Linked DNA regions of Homo sapiens. The protein of the gene in region 4 purifies or fractionates together with the protein of the main gene of each other region. This does not show direct contact. Each region holds a gene or a part of one and is shown on either strand. Other genes may lie near its edges.

Evidence for each region.
Region 1: the proteins of ZDHHC11 (region 4) and EFNB1 purify together in Homo sapiens (co-immunoprecipitation; 3 studies listed by BioGRID and IntAct, with this or other methods). This does not show direct contact.
Region 2: the proteins of ZDHHC11 (region 4) and SCAP purify together in Homo sapiens (co-immunoprecipitation; 2 studies listed by BioGRID and IntAct, with this or other methods). This does not show direct contact.
Region 3: the proteins of ZDHHC11 (region 4) and ANKRD13A purify together in Homo sapiens (affinity purification with mass spectrometry; 2 studies listed by BioGRID and IntAct, with this or other methods). This does not show direct contact.

What each region holds. Positions count from the first base shown.
Region 1 is NC_000023.11:68,839,021-68,842,660, forward strand, and holds the end of EFNB1 (ephrin-B1 precursor), read left to right. Parts: intron 1-643; coding exon 644-736; intron 737-939; coding exon 940-1,068; intron 1,069-1,221; coding exon 1,222-1,634; 3' UTR 1,635-3,140; downstream 3,141-3,640. UniProt on the Homo sapiens protein: Cell surface transmembrane ligand for Eph receptors, a family of receptor tyrosine kinases which are crucial for migration, repulsion and adhesion during neuronal, vascular and epithelial development.
Region 2 is NC_000003.12:47,472,589-47,481,047, forward strand, and holds the start of SCAP (sterol regulatory element-binding protein cleavage-activating protein), read right to left. Parts: upstream 3,354-8,459; 5' UTR 3,211-3,353; exon of another isoform or gene 2,835-3,210; intron 1-2,834. UniProt on the Homo sapiens protein: Escort protein required for cholesterol as well as lipid homeostasis.
Region 3 is NC_000012.12:110,036,981-110,040,732, reverse strand, and holds the end of ANKRD13A (ankyrin repeat domain-containing protein 13A), read right to left. Parts: intron 3,375-3,752; coding exon 3,179-3,374; 3' UTR 970-3,178; downstream 1-969. UniProt on the Homo sapiens protein: Ubiquitin-binding protein that specifically recognizes and binds 'Lys-63'-linked ubiquitin. Does not bind 'Lys-48'-linked ubiquitin.
Region 4 is NC_000005.10:833,519-841,436, forward strand, and holds part of ZDHHC11 (palmitoyltransferase ZDHHC11), read right to left. Parts: exon of another isoform or gene 7,327-7,918; coding exon of another isoform or gene 7,285-7,326; intron 7,133-7,284; coding exon 6,977-7,132; coding exon of another isoform or gene 6,901-6,976; exon of another isoform or gene 6,830-6,900; coding exon of another isoform or gene 6,701-6,829; exon of another isoform or gene 6,564-6,700; coding exon of another isoform or gene 6,454-6,563; exon of another isoform or gene 5,924-6,453; intron 5,021-5,923; coding exon of another isoform or gene 4,987-5,020; exon of another isoform or gene 3,963-4,986; coding exon 3,847-3,962; intron 290-3,846; coding exon 255-289; intron 1-254. UniProt on the Homo sapiens protein: Endoplasmic reticulum-localized palmitoyltransferase that could catalyze the addition of palmitate onto various protein substrates and be involved in a variety of cellular processes.

The DNA.
Region 1 (3,640 bases), on a different chromosome or scaffold from region 4:
CCCTTTGAAGACTGGCATGTTCTCCTCTTAGCCTGGCCTTGGAATTCTCGCCCCAACATTTACCAAGCTCACCTTGGCTCCAGGGGTTGGGCAGGAGAGGTCTCCAATTCGTGTTGCTTCTCTCTTATTTTCTTTGCCCACCTAAGTTCTAATATTGGGAATGGTAACATATGCCAGGCCCTTTGGGATCAGCCAGCTATTCAGCCTTTTTCTTCAGGGGAAACCAAGGCCCCAAAAGGTGAAGGGACTTCTTGCCTTAGATCACACAGTGAGTTAGAGATAGGGTCAGGACTCCAACCCAGTTCTCCTGATTCCTACTCCAGAATTCCTTTCAGTCTATGTAGAAGCCCCCATTATGATCCCAGTGAGGAGGCAGACCTTACCGAGGGGCCATGGCCTGCTCGTGACAGAGGAGCAGTGCCCCTGGGGGTGGGGCTTGTTCTTGGCCTGGGCTGGACTAGGCCATTTTGTTCCTAGTGGGAGGGAAGAAAATGAAAAGGTTCACTGGTAGATGGGAGCTGCTTGCTTCTCCCGACTGCAGTTTCTCTCCCTGTTGGCTGAAGCAGAATGGGAGTTTCTGGGTAATGCTAGTAGACCTTTCTCTCCTCCTGACTTCTCTGACTTCTCTGGCCTCTTCCTGCAGCAACATCCAATGGAAGCCTGGAGGGGCTGGAAAACCGGGAGGGCGGTGTGTGCCGCACACGCACCATGAAGATCATCATGAAGGTTGGGCAAGGTGAGTGCCTAGTCTGAGGGTCCCCTCACCCCACCCTGTTTGACCTTTGGAACAGATGTTCCTGGCTGGGTGCATGTGTATTAGGAGTGGGGGAGCAGGCGTAGGGTTACAGTATCCAGGCCATTCTTGGCCCACCCTTGATGACTGAGGGCACCTATGCTGGCCGGGTCCCTGCCTCTCACCTGTTCTGTCTCCATTCTTAGATCCCAATGCTGTGACGCCTGAGCAGCTGACTACCAGCAGGCCCAGCAAGGAGGCAGACAACACTGTCAAGATGGCCACACAGGCCCCTGGTAGTCGGGGCTCCCTGGGTGACTCTGATGGCAAGCATGGTAAGTGTATGTGTTTCCCAGAGGTCAGGAGCCATTGCTCTGTCACCTTGTTAGGCCCTGTCCCTGAAGAAATGCAAGCTGGGCCTGGCCTGAAATCTGCTGTGTGTCCCTGGGACCCCTGGCTGACTGTTCCTTCCCCTTTCCCTTCCTCAGAGACTGTGAACCAGGAAGAGAAGAGTGGCCCAGGTGCAAGTGGGGGCAGCAGCGGGGACCCTGATGGCTTCTTCAACTCCAAGGTGGCATTGTTCGCGGCTGTCGGTGCCGGTTGCGTCATCTTCCTGCTCATCATCATCTTCCTGACGGTCCTACTACTGAAGCTACGCAAGCGGCACCGCAAGCACACACAGCAGCGGGCGGCTGCCCTCTCGCTCAGTACCCTGGCCAGTCCCAAGGGGGGCAGTGGCACAGCGGGCACCGAGCCCAGCGACATCATCATTCCCTTACGGACTACAGAGAACAACTACTGCCCCCACTATGAGAAGGTGAGTGGGGACTACGGGCACCCTGTCTACATCGTCCAAGAGATGCCGCCCCAGAGCCCGGCGAACATCTACTACAAGGTCTGAGTGCCCGGCACGGCCTCAGGCCCCCGAGGGACAGTCGGCCTGGACCGGACCTCTCCTTTCGCCCCCACACCCCCTCCCCTTGCCAGCTGTGCCCACCTTTGTATTTAGTTTTGTAGTTTCTTGGCTTTTATAATCCCCCTTTTTCCCTGCCCCCTGGGCTTCGGAGGGGGGTGCTTGTGCCCCTAACCCCCATGCTCTTGTGCCTTCCCCCTCTGGCCAGGCCTCTGGGCTCCGTGGGGGCGCCCCTTCTTGGAAGGCAGGGCTGGACACTGATGGACAGCAGGCAGGGAGACAGTCCCCTGGCCCTGCCCCTCCCTCGCCCCCCTTGCCACCTTCCCAGGACTGCTTGTCCGCTATCATCACTGTTTTTAATGCTTTTGTGTTCATTTTTTAGCTGTCAACTCATTTTCATCTGTTTTTTGAAGAAAAATGGAAAAATGTAAAAGGCAGCCCCTCCCCAGGCTTTGTGAGCCTGGCCCAAGCCAGTACAAGAGGGCCTGGGGCACGATGTGGTCAGCCAGGAAGCATAGGATGCCATTTCTTTTATAGATTCCTTGGTATTTCTGGTGGGGTAAGGGGCAGGCCAGGGCTGTTCACGCCCATGAGGGAAGAGGAAAGTGCCACTGGGCAAGGTGTCCCACCCTCCCCTCCTGACCCTCCTACGAGGCTTATCCTGGCAATGGGGTAGTCACTGCCACCCTTCCACACACACACACACACACACACACACAAAAAAAAATCCCTTCCTTGTGGGATTCTTGGGCATCTCCTGCCTCCCTCACTCTCACGGTAATTAATGTCTTAATTGGCTGTTGCCTGGGGAACAGGAGAGCTGCTGCAGGCAGATGACCTCATGGGGGGTGGAGGGAGGTGAGGTGCCCAGGTGGCTATTTGCCCTGCAGAGCTGGGAGTTTCACCCCCACCCCCCACCCTGTTCTCTCCTTACCTTTGGCATCCTTTGGCCTGGTGGGGAAACAGAGGCCCAGGGTGGAGACCTAAGCGGGTATAAGACCAGGTGGCCTGCTCCTTTTCTGGGCCCTAGCACAGGTGGGTAACCCCCACCCAACCCAGCTCCTGCTGCTGTCCCAGTCTTGGGCTGGGGCCTGGAAAGAGGAAGAGGCTGCCTGGGGCTGGGCCAGCCCGCTGTGCACTTTGACCCCAGTTCCTTGCCAGCACGGCTGCTAACAGACTGCCACTTGAGTGCGCCTTGCAGGCACTCCCAGAGCAGCCATGGAAGGAGCTGGCCCTCACACCATCCACCTCCACACTGCCTCCTGGCCAGCTGCCCACCCCAGTGCCAGGTGGGAGAGGGAGCAGAACAGCCAGCCCCTTCCAGGTGGCAGTCGGAAGGGTTTTTGTTTTTGTTTCTGTTGCCATTTGTGTAAATACTAGTCTTTTTGGAAAAAAAATAATGTAAAGATGTTTTGTATAAACTCTGAATTATTTTCTTGTTGCTTTTTTCTTAGAAAAAAATGAGAACTAAAAAAAAAAAATTAACCACATGGAGAAATGGGTGTAAAATGGTGTCGTGATGTTGGGAAATGGAGAGTGAGAGTTGTGTGCGTGCGTGTGTGGTGGGGGTGTGTGTGTGTGCGCTTTCCTGTGCTCAAACCACTGGTGACTGGGGCAGGTACGGGCAGATGATGGCTATCCTAGTGGAGCAAGATGTTTTAATGCCCTATGACCCTCCTGCCACTCCCCTCACCCCAGGTTTTTCTGCTCTCTTGTTCTGCTGTCATGGAGCCTGAGACCATTTCCCCTGTTCATCCTGTCACCTCTGTGGCATAGGCCACGGGCATCTGCCCAGTCTGGCACAGGCCCAGTTAGAGAGGGTTAATGGAGGAGGGGATGTTCCCATGGGGACCTGGGTGTGTCCACAAAGTACTGCCACCACCTAGCTGGGGCTAGATCTGGGACCTGCTGGCAGGCCCAGCCCTGCCCTGCCTCAGGACGCCTGGAGGTGGATAGAAATAACTTCCCAAGATCTGAACTTCAGCTGCAGCCTA
Region 2 (8,459 bases), on a different chromosome or scaffold from region 4:
CTTATGATTTAGCATCCCTGCAACCATTCTAGGTTAGTGCCCTTGACTGCTTAAGCAGAAACTGTCAAATGGCAGTGGTCAAATTGCTGTCACCTTCTTGCTGAGTTCCACCATCCCCACACTAGAGTCAGTGACGCTGGCTTCCTCCCACCACCCCTACCACCTTCTTCCACTACCCTTACCTGCCAATGAGCAACAGAAAAGACTGTGGGCTGCGTGCAGTGGCTCACGCCTGTAATCCCAGCACTTTGGGAGGCCGAGGCGGGCGGATCACCTGAGATCGGGAGTCTGAGACCAGCCTGACCAATAGGGAGAAACCTCGCCTCTACTAAAAATACAAAATTAGCCAGGCGTGGTAGTGCATGCCTGTAATCCCAGCTACTCAGGAGGCTGAGGCAGGAGAATCGCTTGAACCTGGGAGGCGGAGGTTGCAGTGAGCTGAGATCACGCCATTGCACTCCAGCCTGGGCAAGAAGAGCGAAACTCCATCTCAAAAAAAAAAAAAAAAAAACAGACTGTGGAAGCAGGTACAAGAACAGCATAAAAGGATGGACTCTTTTGTCAGCCAAATCTCAGTTTGCACACAACACACTCCGTCTCAAATTCGCTAGGTGACCCAGGGCCAGTCAAATAACTTTTCTAAAACTCTCCGTAAAGGGGGTGATAACAGTGTTATCTCACCTGGTTATTATGAAAACTAAGTGAGATAAGCTAATATTACAGTACCTAGGACACTGCCTAAACAGCACAAGTGCTCGATATCACCCAGAATTATTACTCTGAGTGGCAAAAGACGACACCTGAACCTTGTTTCTTTAGCCAACTCAGTAAGGTAGCAAGTTCTAACGGAAGGAGCTCAGGTGGCAGAGGTGTGGCAGACCTGGTTTGAAGGATGATCCACCCTTGACAAGCTGGGTGACCTTGTAAGAACCCAGCTTCTCTATGAGGAGTCCTCTCATCTGTTCAACGGGGGTGATGACACAAACTGTATATGAAGTACCTGTCAGAGCCGGTAAAACACTGGCAACCACCAATGGTGAGAGTAAGCAAACAGCACATGAACCTGTCATTCCAGGATCCCTGAGGCACATTCACATGCATGGCTAGATTCTGAGAGAGAAAACATCCCTAAAGTCTACCACCAAATGTTAATATACATACCTGCAGTGAAGCCCACAGGCACACTTTTTCTTTCCTTTTTTAGTTTATTTAATTCCTGAATCGCATATGCCTCCATTTTTCTAGTAATAAACTTGTAGTAAACTTTTTACCCACCTAATGACAGTGACTGAGGGAACGGGGGAAGGGCCCCAAACCAGTGATTATAAAGTCCACGGAGATCTCTAGAGAGGGGGCGTTTTTGCCGCAACAGCAAAAGAAAAGAGAGAGCATTCAAGCCAGGCGCGGTGGCTCACGCCTGTAATCCCAGCACTTTGGGAGGCCGAAGCGGACGGATCATGAGGTCAGGAGATAGAGACGATCCTGGCTAACACGGTGAAACCCCGTCTCTACTAAAAATACAAAAAAGTAGCCGGGCATGGTGGCGGGCGCCTGTAGTCCCAGCTACTTGGGAGGCTGAGGCAGGAGAATCGCTTGAACCCGGCAGGCGGAGGGTGCAGTGAGCCGAGATGGCGCCACTGCACTCCAGCCTGGGCGACAGAGCGAGACTCCATCTCAAAAAAAAAAAGAAAGAAAGAAAAGAGAGAGCATTCAAACATCAGATCAGTTCATAATAAATTTAAAAAGCCTAATTCTTTCCATTTCAATTTATGACCAAAAGAATAAATATGGAAATATATTTATACAGTGTTAAATATATTTATATAGTGTTTTTTACATCATGTGCTCAGTGGGAATACTGCAAATGTGTAAAACACCTAAAATGTAAACTATATTAACACACATTTTAAAAGATACAGGTCTTGGCCGGGCACGGTGGTTCACGCCTGTAATACCAACACTTTGGGAGGCCAAGGCTTGTATAATGCTTGAGCCCAGGAGTTAAAGACCAGCCTGGGCAACACAGCAAGACCCCCATCTCTACAAAAAAATACAAAAATTAGCCGGGCGTGGTGGCACACACCTGCTGTCCCAGCTACTGGGGAGGCTGAGGTGGGAGGATCACCTGAGCCCAGGAAATCAAGGCTGCAGTGAGCCGAGATCGCGCCACTGCACTCCAGCCTGGGAGACAGAGTGAGACCCTGTCTCCAAACAAACAAACAAAAAACAAGTCTTTAGGCATCACTGAGGAACACCTAAAATGGATACAGCACTAACTAGACACCCTCGACCCTGACTCCCTAATAAAAGCGTCAGTCTTTTGCTCAATATCCTGACCTGACAGCAAACCAATAAAGACACGGCATAACCAAACTCCACAAATTTTTGGCCAAATAAAAGAAACACACGCAACGCTAACATTAAACCTTTTCTATGGCCGCTTCACGATAAGTATTACAAAATCCCCAGAAAGAGTTTATTCACCTAGCTCCGACTGTCGCCATACAAGGTGGAGCAGTGAGTGACCCGAACCAGGGGCTGACCCCTGCCAGAGCCCCCACAGCGACTCACTGCCCCCCCCTCCGCATTCCCATCTGCACAACTTTCTGTGATTCAAACAGTCCGGAGCCAGGGCTCCCTGCAACTAACGCTATCGTGACATTATAAGCCGGTTAAATACTGAGGTCATAAACCCACTCAGAAGTAAACAGAAGCAACATTAGTGAGCAAAGTTGAGGTTTAAGCAATACGGAAAACTAGAAACCAAGCAAAACCAGCAAAGCAACTAGCGTTGTCTCTCAATAAGATCTTCCAAAAGAGGCAAAGTGGAGAACCTGCTCTCCCCCGCACTCCGGAAAACCCAAACAGCACCAAAGCAGGTTCTACAACAGCTTCCCGGAGCAACTAGGCCAGGGGATGCGACGCCGCGCATCTCCCCCCGTCACACCAGGGGCCCGCGGAGGTCTGGTGGGGACGCGGAGCTCCAGGGGCCGGCCGGTGCAGGGACACGGCCGGGTTGGGGGTGGGGACGCGCGGCCCTGCCTCCTTGCCGGCCTGCGGTCTCCAGGGCCGGCCCGCACGGCTGCTGGACAGCGCCATGCCCACGCACCCCCGAACCTAGCGGCCCCCATTCCGGAACTCCCAGCTCCACGCGGCTGGGGTCGAGCTGGGGCCCGCGGGCAGGCGCCCTGAGCACCCGCGTGACGGTACCTGTGGTGGCAGCACCTCCCAAGCTGCGGCGGCGGCGGCGGCGGCGACGGGGGCGGCAGCAGGGGCGGAGCGCGGCGTGCGCGCTCTCGGCCCGCAGTCCGGTGCGTGGCGCCCTCCCTCTCTCTCCTGGCCGCCGGGTGCCCGCCCCTTCACCTCTCACCTCCTACCTTTACCCTCCCGCCCCGCCGCCCTCCGCACGTGCGCCCAGCGGCGTGCGCATGCGTAGTCGAACCACATTCGCGTCTCCCGTTCGCCCTCTGGTGGACACCGGAGGGAAGTATGGACGGCCGGGCCGGGCCGGGCCGGGCGGAGCGTGAAGCCGGGTTAGGGCCCGCCGGGTTTGGGCCCACCGGCTCTCATCGGTCATCAAGAACTTGCAGAAAGCCGGGCACGGTGGCTCGCGGTTGTAATCCCAACACTGTGGGAGTCCAAGGCGCGAAGATCGCTTGAGCCGAGGAGTTAGAGACCAACTTGGGCAACGTAGGAGACCTCCGTCTCCACAAGTAAAATTAATTAGCCGGCTGTGGTGGCGCGCACCTGTGGTCCCAGCTACTCAGGAGGCTGAGGTAGGAGGATCACCTGAGCCCGGGAGGTCGAGGCCACAGTGAGACAAAAAACAAAAAACCCACCCTGCACAAGATGCTCATGTTCCCTGTTTTATAATGGCAAAAAATTAGAAGCAGCTGGGCCGAGATACACTGCAAATGCAGATGAGAAGAATAAATAATGTCCATAAAACTAGTTTCCCTATAGACATTTAAAAGCATAAGTTGACATTTAACCATTTTCCACAGGGAACAGGTATTTGTTATAATAGCAACAGCTACGTTCACTGTTTACTAGGTGTCAGTTGCGGAGCTGGTATTGTACATGTCCTCGCATTTGGCCCTCCTGAAAATCCGAGGTAGGTCTTGTTACAGGGCCTCACAGAAGGGGAAGGGGAGGCTGCCTCCCCTCGAGGGAAACACAGGTCCCCACCTGCCCAGCTCTGGCCCAACTAGAGACGCTGCCCGGACCACTCTGGGGGGACTTTGATCATGCTACTGCATGCCCTTGCTGTACCCAGGTCTTGTGTCAGAGGTAAGCCTCCCCTCAGCCCCTGCCTACTGCCCGAGACACCCGCACCCACCCCAGGGCTACCTGGATAAGGCAGGCCCTGTACCTGCCCTCAAAGGCACCAGCAAACTTCTCTGGGAGTTCCAGAAAGTGCAGATCTAGTCACCAATGCAAGGCAGAAATTAGAGGTGGCCCTTCTGACCGCACCAGCCCCCGACCCACTACACATTCTTCAGATACCTCCTCCTAAAACCCAGTTCCCACCGGACTCTGGCCTCCCTCCTTGCCCACCACACTATTGTCACAATGAAAGTAACAATGGGGACAGTGGGCCTTGGCCCAAAGTGACTTTCAGGGTTATGACATTTTCAGCATTGTCTTTTGGCTTAATATGGGAATTTTGATCCTATAAAGAAAGTATTCGCTGGGCGCGGTGGCTCACGCCTGTAATCCCAGCACTTTGGGAGGCCAACACGGGCAGATCATGAGGTCAGGAGATCGAAACCATCCTGGCTAACACGGTGGAACCCCATCTCTACTAAAAATACAAAACAAACAAAAAAAAAATTAGCCGGGCGTGGTGGCAGGTGCCTGTAGTCCCAGCTACTCGGGAGGCTGAAGCAGGAGAATGGCATGAACCCGGGGGGCAGAGCTTGCAGTGAGCCGAGATCATGCCACTGCACTCCAGCTTGGGCGACAGAGCGAGACTCCGTCTCAAAAAAAAAAAGAAAAAAAAAAAGAAAGAAAGAATTTTTTAGGTTATTTTTATTTTTACATTTGAGGTCTCACTCCTTTACCCAGGCTGGAGTGCAGTGGTGTGGTCATAGCTCACTGCAGCCTCAACCTCCTGGGCTCAAGTGATCCTCCCAAGAAGGTAGGACTACAGATGAGCGCCACCATGCCATTTTTGTTTTTGTTATTTTTATCAAGATGGGGTCTTTTGCTGTGTTGCCCAGGCTGGTCTCAAACTCCTGGGCTCAAGCAGCCTTCCCATGTTGGCCTCCCAAACTGCTAGGATTACAGGCATGAGCCACCGTGCCCATCCTGTTTGTTGTATTAAATGAGAGAGAAGCAACAATAGAGAGCATTCAGGGGAACTTACCTACACCCCTTACCTATCCTGACATCACTCTCTCCAGGTCTGATCCCTTGAAATACCATCATTTGTCCCCTCAGAAACCTTGGGCATGAAGGAGTCCTCCTGAGCCCTGGGCCCACTGTACCAAAGTCTTCTCTCCAGAGAGGGTCAGGAGCCTGTCTTTTAACCACCTCCATGGCAGGACTTAGCCAGACTGCCTTGGGAACTGCTGTCATTCTCCTCACTCACCACCTCTTCCCACCCAACCACTCCATCAAAGCTGTGTTTGCAGAGGACTGACCCTCAGTGAAGTCTGGACACTCCCCCACAAAAAATAAGAGGCTCCAAAACTGACAAGCACCTAGCTAAGTACCTTTGTGCCTTGAAGCATGGCAAACAATCCTCCACTGCCCTAAGAGAACCCACTGAGAATCCTGTGGAGCCTCTGGGGAAGCTGGGGTTTATGGGGCCCTGGTAAATCTGCTACAGAATGCCCCCCATGGAATATAATGAAGTGGACATGATTTTTGGGCTTCTCCCACAACATTTTTTTTTTTTGAGACACAGTCTCATTCTGTTGTCCAGGCTGGAGTGCAGTGGTGAGGTGTTGGCTCACAGCAACCTCCCCCTCCCAGGTTCAAGTGATTCTCCCACCTCAGCCTCCTGAGTAGCTGGGATTATAGGTGTGCGCCACCATGCCTGGCTAATTTTTTTTTGCATTTTTAGTAGAGACAGAGTTTCGCCATGTTGGCCAGGCTGTCTCAAACTCCTGATCTCAGGTGGGATCCACCCGCCTCAGCCTCTCAAAGTGCTGGGATTACGGGCGTGAGCCACCTCACCTGGCCCTTTTTTTTTTTTTTTTGAGACCAAGTCTCTGTCACCCAGGCTGGAGCACAGTGGCACAATCTTGGCTCACTGCAACCTCCACCTCTCAGGTTCCAGCGATTCCCGTGCCTCAACCTCTTGAGTAGCTGGGACTACAGGCTTGCGCCATCGCGCCAGGTTTATTTTTGTATTTTTAGTAGAGACGAGGTTTTTGCCATGTTGCCCAGGCTGGTCTCGAACTCCTGGGCCCAATCGATCCACCCGCTGTAATCCCGGGATTACAGGTATGACCCACCATGCCCAGCCTCCTACAACATTTAATATGAAAACATAACAGAAAAGTTGAAAGAACCATAGAGTGAACACTCATATACCCTAGATTCAACTATTAATGTTTTGCTTAGTATCTCATGTCTATCTAAAAAAATCTATCCTTTTATTCATCTATCTGTAATTGCCCAAGGGTTCTTCTTGCCCACTGCGCAGACAAAATCAATTCACTGAGGCCTTGGCATTGCAGTAAAGAGTTTCACTGACGCAAGGCTGGCGATGCACAAGGCCACGCAGAAGATGGAGCTGTTACTCAAATCAGTCTCCCCAAAGGCTTAGAGGTCAGGGTTTTTCAAGGATAGTTTGGTAGGCAGGGTGCTAGGGAATGGGAAATGTTGATTGGTTGGGGATGCAATCATAGGAGGAGTCCTCAAGCGCTGAGTCAGCCTCTGGGTGGAGTCAGCAGAAATGCAAAAGTCTGAAAAGAAACACCTCAAGGCCGGGCGCGGTGGCTCACGCCTGTAATCCCAGCACTTTGGGAGGCTGAGGCAGGTGGATCACGAGATCAGGAGATCGAGACCTTCCTAGCTAACACGGTGAAACCCCGCCTCTACTAAATATACAAAAAATTAGCCGGGTGTGGTGGCGGGCACCTGTAGTCCCAGCTACTCTGGGGGCTGAGGCAGGAGAATAGCATGAACCCAGGAGGCGGAGCTTGCAGTGAGCCGAGATCATGCCGCTGCACTCTAGCCTGGGCAACAGAACGAGACTCTGTCTCAAAAAAAAAAAAAAAAAAAAAAGAAAGAAAGAAAGAAAGAAAGAAAAGAAACATCTCAAAAGGCAAGTCTTAGGTTCTACAATAGTGATGTTATCTATAGGAGTAACTGAGGAAGTTACAAATCTTGTGACTTCCAGAGCAATGACTGGTTATCATTTAACTACACCTACACCTTAGCAGAATTCAGGCCCCTCCTATAAAAATCCTAGACTTGTGGCTTTTCATTAGTTTTACAAAGGCGGTTTAGTTTTGGAGAGGGCTAATGTCATCCTTGCTTTAAGGTTGAACTATAAATTCCTCCCAAAGTTACCTTCGCCTATCCCCAGGTTGGAGGTTAGAAGCAAGATAGAGCTGGGCACGGTGGTTCACTCCTGTAATCCCAGCATTTTGGGAGGCCGAGGCAGGCAGATCACCTGAGCAGGAGTTCGAGACCAGCCTGACCAACATGGAGAAACCCTGTCTCTACTAAAAATACAAAATTAGCCAGGTGTGGTGGCGCATGCCTGTAATCCCAGCTACTCAGGAGACTGAGGCAGGAGAATAGCTTGAACCTGGGAGGCAGAAGTTGTGGTGAGCCGAGATCGTGCCATTGCACTCCAGCCTGGGCAACAAGAGCAACACGCTGAGAGAAAAAAAAGAAAAAGAAAAGGAAGCAACATGGAGTCAACCATGTCAGGTTTTTCTTACTGCCATAATTTTGCAAAGGTGATTTCGTATCAATCCTTTATTTTAAGAGATAGGGTATTGCTCTATGGTCCAGGCTGGAATGCGGTGGCACAATCACAGCTCACTGCAGCCTTGACCTCCTGGGCTCAAGCAAGCTTCCCAAGTAGCTGGGACCACAGGTGGGTATGACCACTCCCAGCTAAATTTCAGAGTTTTTTAAATAGAGATGAGGGTCTCTCTGTTGCCCAGGCTGGTCTTGAACTCTTGGCCTCAGGCAACTCTCCCATCTTGGCCTCCACAAGTGCTAGGATTATAGGTGTGAGCCACCATACCCAGCCCCTATCTTATTTTTGATGCACTTCCAGTTAAGTTGCAGAAACCTGATTTTAGTTTTTATATATAGTAAATCAAATGGAACAGTTCCATTTAGCCCTAACTAGGTAGAGCTCAACTTTACTTCAGATTGTTCCCCATAAGAAAGGTGAATTCAGGCCGGGCACGATGGCTCATGCCTGTAATCCCAGCACTTTGGGAGGCCAAGGCAGGCGGATCACGAGGTCAGGAGATTGAGACCAT
Region 3 (3,752 bases), on a different chromosome or scaffold from region 4:
GAGTCATATCAGCATGTTGTATTTTTTTCCACCTGGACCTCAGGCTTAAACCTACACATATTTCTAAACAGAGGCCTAGGTGGTACTTTGAACTTCATCACTCACTGTACCACTGAATCACTTGAAATCTCCACATCCAGTTCATCTTCCTTGATGTCATTTGTGGTCAGCAGGAGACTGCGACCAAGCTGGCAGTTATGGCAGTTTCCCTTTCCTGTCATTATTTAGAGCAGACTTTCAATCCCTTGACATGCCACGTTTATGTAGTGTGACAAGCTTGTTTATAGAGCAGAGTGCCTTAGGAACTTAGTTCCTAGCAGTGTCTAACGTGCAGAAGTTGCTCAATTAAAGTTTCTGGCCGAGTGCGGTGGCTCATGCCTGTAGTCTCAGCACTTTGGGAGGCCGAGGCGGGTGGATCACCTGAGGTCAGGAGTTCGAGACCAGCCTGGCCAACATGGTGAAACCCCGTCTCTACTAAAAATACAAAAATAAGCCAGGCATGGTGGCACACGCCTGTAATCCCAGCTACTCGGGAGGCTGAGGCAGGAGAATCGTTTGAACCCGGGAGGCAGAGGTTGCAGTGAGCCAAGATCGCGCCATTGCACTCCAGCCTGGGCAACAAGAGCAAAACTCCGTCTCAGGAAAACAAACAAACAAAAAAAAAAAACCACTTCCTGCTGATATTGGGCCACTCAAGCTTAGCTTTTCAGTTTTTAAATAATCCATAGTCATTGCACCTCTTGACCTGAAAGAGTAATGGTTTTCTTCATAGTGTCCTTGTGGCTTCAAAGTATTGATATCTACTTTCCCCTAAAAGCAAAGCAGCTCCTTTACATCTTCCCAGAAATACAGCCTCATTTCTGGAACCCATACATTTCTACTGGCCACTGCCTTTGTTGTTTTTAATACCCGCTTATTTAGATATAGGAAGAGTTTGGAAGCCTTATCATCTGGACTTCTAGGAACAGCCTCACAAAGCAGTTGGCTTCAAGGGATAGCATTGATGCAGAGCTTTGATGTTGGCTGGGCTTCCCTTACCCCACAAGAGCCAGTTCCCCTCCAGGAGGACCACAGAGGTGTCAGAACAGCCCAACACTGGCTTGCTTTTAGTTGCCATTTGAAACAAGCAGCATGGGGCTTGTTAACCTGGGCAGGAAGGCTGGGAGGAGCATGCCACCTTTGCAGTGATGAACTGAGCGAAGTGAGGCATTCTAATGTTCTACTGACATACGTAACAGGAAGTGTGGGTACATCCAGTGACTAGAAAAAACTGAAAAGGAAAAAGACTCAAAGACTGGAATTTTGTATGAGCACCCTCTAAGGAAGCAGTCTTTATTTGCATTTTTAGAGTGAACACATATATGAAAAACACTGCAACAGGTTGACACAATGCTCAGTCCCTTTTTAAGTGAATTCCTGGGGAGAAAGTCAAGGACCTTAGGGAGCAGAGCAGTGGAATGCAAACACAGAAATTACCTATGAGTCACTTTTGTGAGCCAATGACACGGCCTCACTGCAGCCATTCCAAGAAGTATCTTTGCTCACGGTAAATGCAAAGTAAACAAAATACCACACTGCATATTTGAAACAAACAAATGTGACGTTGCCTATACTGGCCTCATGTGCAGAAGGAATTTTGGTCAGACAATGACAAAAAAAAAAAACAAAACAGATTGTGAAATGGAATTAAAAGCACAATTCTTTGTATCTGGGAACGTTTCACTGGCAACACTAACTGTATGATACAGACGTTACCTGGAACAGTAGTTATGTTTCTCTTCCTATCCCCAAAGAAGCACAATAGAAGAAATAGACGCAAAATGGAGGAGGGTGTTGTTTACCAGGTTATTTCAGTGCAGCCTGTGGGAATGAATACACGGGCCACAGTGAGCAGTGCCCTTGGCTGTATTCCCCAGGGTTCTGTATGTTGTGCGATGGTTATATACAAGAGGGTTTGACAAAAGAGAGTTAACTACTAAAGGTATCCAAAAAAGGCCTGAGAAAATCTGGTTAAAATGTATAACCTTGTATTGCTACTGATGGGAGTTGTTTTTATATCTTTTACAAATAATAAAAAGATTGTTAAAAAATAGATTTATCCAGAAAGATGTTGATTTGAACTCTAAAAAGCAACGTGGAATCATTATTTTCCCTTTTGAATGAAGAGCCATGGAGCTCCGTGGTTTTCAGCTCCCTTTCTGGTTGCAAATCAATCCTTCCTCTGGAGTGAGTCTAGGGCATGCGGGCTCTTCCTAGGTGTCTACGTGGAAATCCTTCACTCATGCAGGTGTAGAACACACCTGGTTTGGTTCTGTGTGTTCCAATATTTTGGCCAGCTTGCCCACTTCAAGAACAAGCCTCAGGTTCCCCTAGCTGCTCCTTCAGGGACAGGATTAGCTGCCTTTGATTTAGCCTGGAGAATCCTGCTCTCAAAAGAATTGCCTTTACAAATTCAAATCAGATCCTTCGATGCGTGCAGTGAGGTGATGTGAAACTATTAGTAATGTTTAAGGCTAAGGCAACATCCATGGCCATTTGTGTATCTTAATTTGATGCAAATAGTTAACAATAATCTAAAATAGATTCTATATGTATCTCCTCTAACTTTAGCTGGGTGTGGAAGGAATGGAATCAGATAGATGGAGGAAGAATAATGACAATGTCCTAGAAACCCTGTAAAAAGGTAAAAATAAGGAGATCAGCACAGATTACCCATTTCTTTGGTGAACAGTAAAGAAGTGTCTCCAATTCTCATAGATCACACTTTACAAAGGCGGCTGCTGCTCTTATATATAAAAGCACCCTGACTCTGCAATAACTTGTCTTGTTATCACTCCTTGATAAAAATTTATCTACAAACCTGCGGGGATTGGGGTTTTGTCTAAAGCTGGTAGTAAAAATGTGACCTGCAAGCCAATACAGCTAATGGAAAGTGATGATGCTCTCCTCCCCTTAGCCTGGAGATGGGGCCTGCAATCCCTGGTCCCTTCTCCACCCCAGGGAGCAGCCTGGATGGGCCCAGGAGTCCCTGGTTCTGCACCTCTGCATAAAGAAGGGGCAGTTGTTGCCTGCTGCATGCACGCAAGGTGCAGGCCCTTAGCCCTAGGGCCCTGGTTGACACAGCATCTGTGACAGCCCACAGCCTCTGCTTTGTGCAGAGGCTCACAGGCTGAAAGGTCTATTTGTCAGTGAGTGACAGCTGTAAGACTTGCTGGAGCTCAGCCTCTTCCTCCTGGAGCCGGAGCTCCCATTCCTCCAGCTCTTTGGCAGAGAGCTCCATGGCTAGCTGCAAGTCATTATCAAAACGGCTTGTCTCGCTCAGGGCGCTGGGGCACAGGCCTTCTGTGCTGGTGAGGAGGCTCTCCTGGATGGCCCTGGGTTGGAAAACAGATAAAAAGGGAGAGTCACTACTATCATCATCATGGTGGCAGCAGTAACTACATTTCTTAACCGCTTACCAAGGGCACACTGTGCCAGGCATTTAATATGCATGATGCCAATTAATCCCACATAACTGGCGGTGTAGGTGTTGTATACGGGTGAGAAACCCCACAATCTTGCCCAAGACCACCCAACCAGTAAGTGATAGGGCTGGGAATTGAACTTGGATCTGTTTTAAAGCAAAACTCAGGTTCTTCATCAACAGGCTCTCATAGACACCTTAAGTATAAGTCTTCGTAAAATGAATCCTCGCGGTTTTTCCCGTAATCTCTGGAGCTGTTCCTCCAAACTTCCTTATCTTTACAATTATA
Region 4 (7,918 bases):
GTGTTAGTTTAGATGTTAGTTATGAAGAAGGGAGTGAAGAATGTAGTTTCTGCAAGTAAGACAAGCACATCGAGATAGATAATTTGGTATAATTTAACAACATTAAACAAAACTATTTTATCTTCTACTGCATCATCCCATGATTTCAAAATGTCTCATCATAGGTGAATTATTTTCCAAAGTCATTTGAGTTAAGAAAAGAATACAGCTATTCTTCAGAAGGACCAAGCTACTGCAGGAAGCTTGCAACTTACCCCTGTGCAGATGAGCCCAGGGCGCCAGCTCCTTGCTGTGGGGCAAAAGAAAATTCGTCACATGAAAAAAGAAGTTGTTGACATGCAGCTGATTCTTACATAAAAGTGACGTCTATTATTCCTGGGTTTTGAGGAATGGTACCTGGAGTTCTCTTGGGTCCTGAGTTCAGATCTCAGAACCACTTACGTGTGCACGTGTTTTCATTTCTCTCTGGTGAGAAACTGGGAGTGGGATTCTGGTCATGTATTAGACATTTATCTTTTAAAGAAATGCCAAACTGCTTTCCAGTGTGGTGGCACTTTACACCCTCATTTAACTCCCACTAGCAAAAAAACGCAGGAGACTTGCAATTTCTCTACAACTTCACCAACCCTCGGTGGTGTCTGTCTTGTTGATGACAAGCATTCTCCTGGGTGTGTGGTAGTATCTGATTGTGGTTTTTATTTGCAGCTGCCTGATGTAGAATGATGTTGAGCATTTTTTTCCATGTGCTTATGTGGCATCCATATATCTATACATCTACATCTACCTTGGTAAGGAGTTTGTTCAAATCTTTTGCCCATTTTTTATATGTATGTATGTATTTTTATTTATTTTTGTAGAGATGCTCAGGCTGGTCTTGAACTCCTGGCCTCAAGCAATCCTCTTGCTTGGCCTCCCAAAGCACTGAGATTATAGGTGCTTCCCATTGTGTCCAGCCCTCTTGCCCATTTGAAAAACTGAGTTTTCTGTTTGTTTATGTTTTTGTTTGTTGTTTTTTTACAATTGCACTTTGAAAGCTCTTTGTGTCTTTGTGTATTCTGGACATCAGTCTAAGACTTGAAAATATTTTGTTTGCCTGTGGCTTGCACAGGAATGAACACCTGGCTTTATTGTGCATTGCTTTACTGCACTTCACAGATACTGTGTTTTTTCACAAATTGAGGGTTTGTGGTGACCCTGGTCAAGCAAGTATGTCGGCGCCATTTTCCCCGCAGTGTGTGCTCACTTCAATTGTCTGTGTAAGCAGCTTTTAGCAATAAAGCACTTTTAATTCAGACACATAGTTTTTAGACATAATGCTGTTGCACACGTCATGTAAACGTAACTTTTATAAGCACTGGGAAACCAGAAATTCATGTGACTTGTTTTACTGACATGTTTACTTTATTGTGGCTTTCTAAAACCAAACCTGCAGTATCTCTCATGTGTGCCTGTATTTTTATTTTCTTAATGGTGACTTTTGAAGAGCAAATATTTTCAATTTTGGTAAAGTCCAAACTATGATTTTTTTCTTTAATAGGCAGTGATTTTGGTGTCAGATCAAAGACAAGCTTTGTCTCACTAAAGATCACAGAGATTTCATTCTATGCTTGTTTCTAGAAGTGTTCTATGTTCAGCTTTTAAGTTTAGGTGTCAGATGGATTTGGGGCTAATTCTTCCGTGGCGAATGAAGTGATCCTGGGTAATCTTTGTACAGGTATGAAGAACTCAATCATTCTTTTTTCTTTTCCATGTGGATATCCAATTGTTCTAGTACCACTTGTTGAACTATAATTTCTCCCTATTTAATGATTTTAGTACCATTATTTAAAGTCAATTGACCATAAATGAAAGCTTTAACTTTGGACCTTTCTTCTGGTCCATTTCTCTATATCTGTCTCTGTCGGTGCCACACTGTTTTTATTACTGTAGCTTTATGTCTCTCTCTCTGTCAGCGCCACCTGTCTTTAGTGCTACAGCTTTATAGTAACATTTAAAGTCTGGTTGTGTAAGTTCTCCAATTTTATTTTTTCTCAAAATCATTTGGCTAGTACAGTAGCCTAGGTCTTTTGAATTTGCATATACATTTTAGGACCACCTTGTCATTTCTGCTAAAACAGAAGCCTGCTGGGGTTCAGCAGGGATTGTGGTAAATCTGTAGATAAGTTTTGGGGAAAATTGCCCTTTTAATAGTATTTTTTTCCAATCTATGAATGCTGTACACCTTTTCACTTAATAGAGCGTCTCTGACTTCTCTCAGTCATGGTGTGTAGCTTTCAGTGTACATATTTGCATAAGGTTTGTCAAATTTATTCTTTTTTTATTAGACTATGAAAGGAAGTTTTAAAAATATAACCCGGATTTTTCATTGCTGGTGGATAGAGATGTGCGAGCGTGTATTTTAATATGTGCCCCACATCCTTGTTAAGTGATTTAATTATCTTAACTAGGTCTTAAAACATACTTTTTAGGTTTCATTGTCTGCAAATAAACACAGTTTTATTTTGTATTCTCTGTGCCTTCATTTTCCCTGCTATGCTGGGCTGGCCAGAATGTGACTGTGATATCAGAAGTAGGAGGAAAGGGCGTCATCACCTGTGCCCAGCCTCCAAGAGAGGGTCACAAGCCTTTCACCAGTAAATGTCACGTCAGGTACACAGGGTGCTTTCCTATCATTCCTAGGTCACTGAGATTTGTTAAAAATCATGAATGGGAACTTGCTGTTAACAAACCCTTTTCTGCATTGATTGGCATGATTGCGTGGTTACCGTTCTCTATTGGACTAACGTGCTGAGCTGTAGTAATTGATTCCTAGGCCTTAAGCCACTGCTTACCCCTGGAGTGATATCACTTGGCCACAGTGCACATTCCTGCCCCGTGCTGCTCGATTTGGTTTCCCAAGGTCTTATCAGTGATCTCTGCCTGTGTTTCCTGAATGTACTGGCTTATGAATATCTGGTTTGGTGTCAGGTTGATAGTGGCATTGCTGAATGAGTTGGGAAGTGTTGCTTCCTTCTCTGTTTTCTGAAAGAGTCTGTGTGTAGGTTGTATTGTATTTTTTCTTTAAATCTTTGCTGGAATTCATGCATGAAGACTACAGGGCCTGGGATTTTTCTTCACTGGGAGATTTTAAATTAGTAGTTTAGTCTCTTGGCTGTTCTATGTCTATTTAGACTTTCTATGTCTTCTTGAGTTAGTTATAATAATTCATGTCACTTAACCGGAAAGGGAACTAACTTCCTTAAGTTAAAAATCATGTTTCAGGCCAGGTACAGTGACTCATGCTTGTAATCCCAGCACTTTCGGAGGCCAAGGCGGGCGGATCACCTGAGGCCAGAAGTTTGAGACCAGCCTGGCGTGTTAAAACCACATCTCTACTAAAAATACAAAAATTAGTCGGGCGTAGTGGCATACATCTGTGATCCCAGCTACTTGGGAGGCTGAGGTAGGCAAACTGTTTGAACCCAGGAGGTGGAGGCTACAATGAGCTGAGATTTCACCACTTCACTCCACCCTGGGCAACAGAGCGAGACTCTGTCTCAAAAAAAAAGATGCAAAAAGCACATTTCAACTTTGGAAGATGTATCGTGCAGTATAGAAATGTCCAGGAGACTCAGTTCCTTTCCTATCTTTGCACTAGGAAGTCCGTGGTGCATGACTGGTGTTTATGTTCACAAAGACACATAGACACACCCATGCACAGAGCCTCACACACAGACACACACACAGCAGAGTCCATGGGCTGCATCGGCCCTGAAGTAAAGGAGCATGGCTGAGAGGTCCCAACCACCGAGTGACCTTAGACATTGTCCCAGGCCTGGAGAAATGGAGCAGAGAGACAGGTGGTACCTGGAGAACTCCTTTGTCCATTTGCACGTATGGATCTTTCCTCACTGCTTGATGTTTTGAACTCTCTTCTTTGCGGTTATTAATGAGATACTCAAAGGTGGTCATCTTCTTGGCCTCTGGAAAGGGAAAAGGAGGAACAGGACAAGATACCAGCCCTGCGGCTTTGCACGGCGCCCACAGGACAGCTCAGCAGAGTGGCCAGTGCCACTGATCCGGCCCCTGCACAGGGAGAACTGCTCCGCCCACCATGCAGGCCCTGTGAGGTCAGGATGAGTGCAGGTGCCTTGTGGGCCCAGTTCTGCAGCTAGCTGATGGTCAGCAGGAGGGGTCTGCAGCTGCGACCTGGGGAACAGTGCTGACCCACGCCCCTGCCGCCTGCCACGGCCTCATTGAGCTGCATTGTTAGTGGTGTCAGAGATGAGCTGTCTCTCACAGACCTGGGTCCCCTATACCATGCAGCTTGAGAGGTTGCTCCAGATCCCCTGGGATCGCTGGCAGGGGTAAGAGACCAGCTCAGGAGGGGCCGCTCTGTCTGAGGGTCCAGATGGCCTGTGGGGTTCCCCACATCTGGACACTGGGTGGGGCGCACCTTGGGGGATGCACAGAGACCCCACAGTCGGAGGACCACGCAGTGGGGCGGCCACCCCGAGGTGCTGGCTAGCGGGTCCTGGGACCACACACTCCTGAGCGTGCTGAGAGCCCCAGGCCCAGGAGGTGAACACGAGTGCTGTGAGTGCCACTCAGCACAGCCTCTGATGGGGCTGAGACAGGTCACCATCCCTGCAGCCCTGCACAGTGCCCACAGGACAGCTCAGCAGGCTGGCCAGAGCCCTACCCACCTGGCCTGTCCTGCAGGCAGCAAAGCAGCCCAGGGAAGCAAAGCAAAACCTGATACACCCGTTTATCTAAAAGAGCCGTCTTAACAAACGTTAATAAAATGGGCTCTGCACCTATTTCAGCCACGAGCTTCCATGGAGGGGCCAAACTCTCCATGCTTCTTTCCCTAAACACCAACACCGTGAGAGCCGATGTCTTGTGACTATTTCTGGAGACTGGGGCGGCCGCCCACAGAGGCCTATTTGCAGTGAGGAGCAGATGGCGGTGGGCGCCCTGGGGAGCTGCCTGTGGCCAGCCCAGCCTTCACAGGATGCGTCTCACCACAGCCTCTCCAGTCCTGTGAGGTAGAGAAGAAGCTCCTGGACATCCTGGAGTCACTGCCCAGGGAGGCTCTGGGTCACGGGGGTGGGGACAGGCCTGGGCGTCCTGCCTCCCGCCCACAGCAGCCGACTGCCTGTCCTTTCATGTTTCTGCCACACTTGGTCTGGGCTTTGCGTTCAAGAAGCCCATTCCAAGTGCAGTGCCTGGCTCAGAGGACAGACCAGGTCATCCCTCCCAGCCCCGCATGGCTTCAGGCCCACTGCACTTCCCTGCTCTGCCGCCTGAGGCAAGGGCCAGCTTCTCTGCAGCACAAGGGCCTGCAGCACCCCACGTGCTCAGCACACAGTGGGCATTGACTATTTTAACCCAGGGAAACATTTTGTACACAAAGTTGGAAAAAAATGACAAGTGCAGACTTTGTATTACTGGGCAGTTTGAGCATCCCTTAATCTGCGGCACATGTGGATGAGACCATGTGGCCTCGGCCCAACCTCGGCCGATTCTCCTGTTGTGGGGGGACTCACCCTGACTCTAAGCATCTGAGGGTGAGAGATTTCCTGATAAGGAGAGATGATGAATTCTGGGTGGAGTGAAACTCCAGAAAAGCCTTCATAGGTGGTAAACCCAAAAATATTTAAATATAAGAGAGATTGCTAGATAATTCTAGAAAGTACTTTTAAAAATATTCCTGATTCTAAGAAGGGTGGAGAGTTTTGAAGGAGGCCCAAATGACTTCTCACTCTTAAGGGTTTCAGCTTCAGGAACAGGCAGCCTGTAACATTCTACAAGGCAGACGCGTGTCTCCATGAAGTTACACCTGAGGCTTTAGTTCCATTCCATTCAGTAAACATATCCTAAGCACCTATTCTATACAGGCACTGGCCTTGACATCCAAAATTAAAACTCTGAAAACAGCACATTCAGCTCTGTGTCCGTAGGATTTAATCCAGTGATTTTCATTGCACTTTCATTAAAAAAAATTCAACCCTCAGGCAAGACAACAGTGACTGTAAGATATGCGTTAGAGGTGTGTGTTTTAAAACATCCCCAGGGTTGTGTGGGGACAGTGGTTTGTAGGGTAACCTGTGGTTATGAACAAGGAGGCTCTTGGTGGGGTGTGTTCATTCTGAGCTGGGCGTTCTTGCCACAACTGCAGGCAGGGGATGCTCTGGAGATGGAGGTGAGCCCAGAGCCTGACCCACCCAACTCCCTCTGCCCTGACCAGGGGTTGGCCAAGCTGTCAGGAGCAGGGCATTCTTGGGGGCTGGCCTGGACACACTCTGCTGCCCGTGTCCACAGAAACCCCCTGAGAGGCCACAGCCTCGGGGCCACCACTGCCCAGAGAATGGAAGACGCTTTGCAGCTGGCCCACCATGACCAAAACGGCTGGTGCCAGGAGCAGGGAGGTTGTTGTTACTTCCAACACAGGTTTCCTTGGGGCTGGGGAGTTTACCCTCCGTCGTTCAGCAACATGACTGACCGCCTACCGCTGTGCCCACTGTGAGACCAAGCAAGACCACCAGCTCTCGCTTCAGTTGTTTGGTTAGTGGGTGACCTGCCTGTAATATATTTCATTGTTAGAATTTCTACTTGTGTTTTTGGAAGTCCACCTGTCCTTATTTCATAATGTCCTGTTCTTGCCTAATAGATTCCATTCCATTGTCTCTGAACATTTTAAACTTGTTACTTCAAGCACCTGGCACCACTCCTGCAGGTCTCGGCGTGAGTTCAGCTTCTTGCTGGGCCTGCTGGGTCCTCATGGATTTAATTTCTTCCTGTGATTTGCCCTTTTTGTCCATGATCTCACTTCTGGGAGAGGCTGACCCTGAACACATGCGCACACGGGGGACAAAGACTCTGGCCCCAGGCGTGGGGGGCTCAGGGTTAGGGACATACTCAAGTAGAGGTGTAAGATGAGCAGCTCTGACCACCCAGCCTTGGGGGGATCGGGGGCTTAGGGTGGGGGACATACTCAGGTAGATGTGGAAGATGAGCAGCTGGCCCAGGTGCACCAAGCCAAGAAAGTCCAGCAGGAGCACGAGCATCCCGATGATCACGACTATCAGGGTCTGCACCTGCACCGGGAACAGGGGGAGGAACAGCAGCCACGTGTTCATATTCTTGACATCTGGGGAGACAAGGGAGAGCCACTGTGTCCAGCACCTGCTGACGGGTGCCACATCAGGTGGACGTCACAGACCAGAGCGTGCTGGGGATGGGGCGGTGTGGGGACAGCCAGTGCGAGGGATGTCTCCCTGCCCAGGTGGACGCCTCCCTTACCTGAGTGCCCCGTAGGCCCTGCTGCCTTCGGTTGGTTTTCATGATCCCTGCTTTATGGATCTGGGAGGTGAGGCTCCAACATTGTCACTAAGTGCCGGGGTCACAGTGCCCACCCCTTCCTAAGTGCTGGGGTCACAGCGCCCACCCCTTGCTCACTAAGAGCCAGGGTCACAGCGCCCACCCCTTCCTAAGTGCCGGGGTCACAGCGCCCACCCCCCTTCCTCACTAAGTGCCGGGGTCACAGTGCCCACCCCTTCCTCACTAAGTGCCGGGGTCACAGTGCCCACCCCTTCCTCACTAAGTGCCAGGGTCACAGCACCCATCCCTTCCTTATTTAGTGCCAGGGTCACAGTGCCCACCCCTTCCTAAGTGCCGGGGTCACAGCACCCACCCCTTCCTAAGTGCTGGGGTCACAGTGCCTGCCGGCTCTGCCGGGCCCCAGCACCCATCCTTTCCTAAGTGCCAGGGCCCCAGCACCCACCCCTTCCTTACTAAGTGCCAGGGTCACAGTGCCCACCCCTTCCTTACTAAGTGCCGGGGTCACAGTGCCCACCCCTTCCTCACTAAGTGCCAGGGTCACAGTGCCCACCCCTTCCTCACTAAGTGCCGGGGTCACAGTGCCCACCCCTTCCTC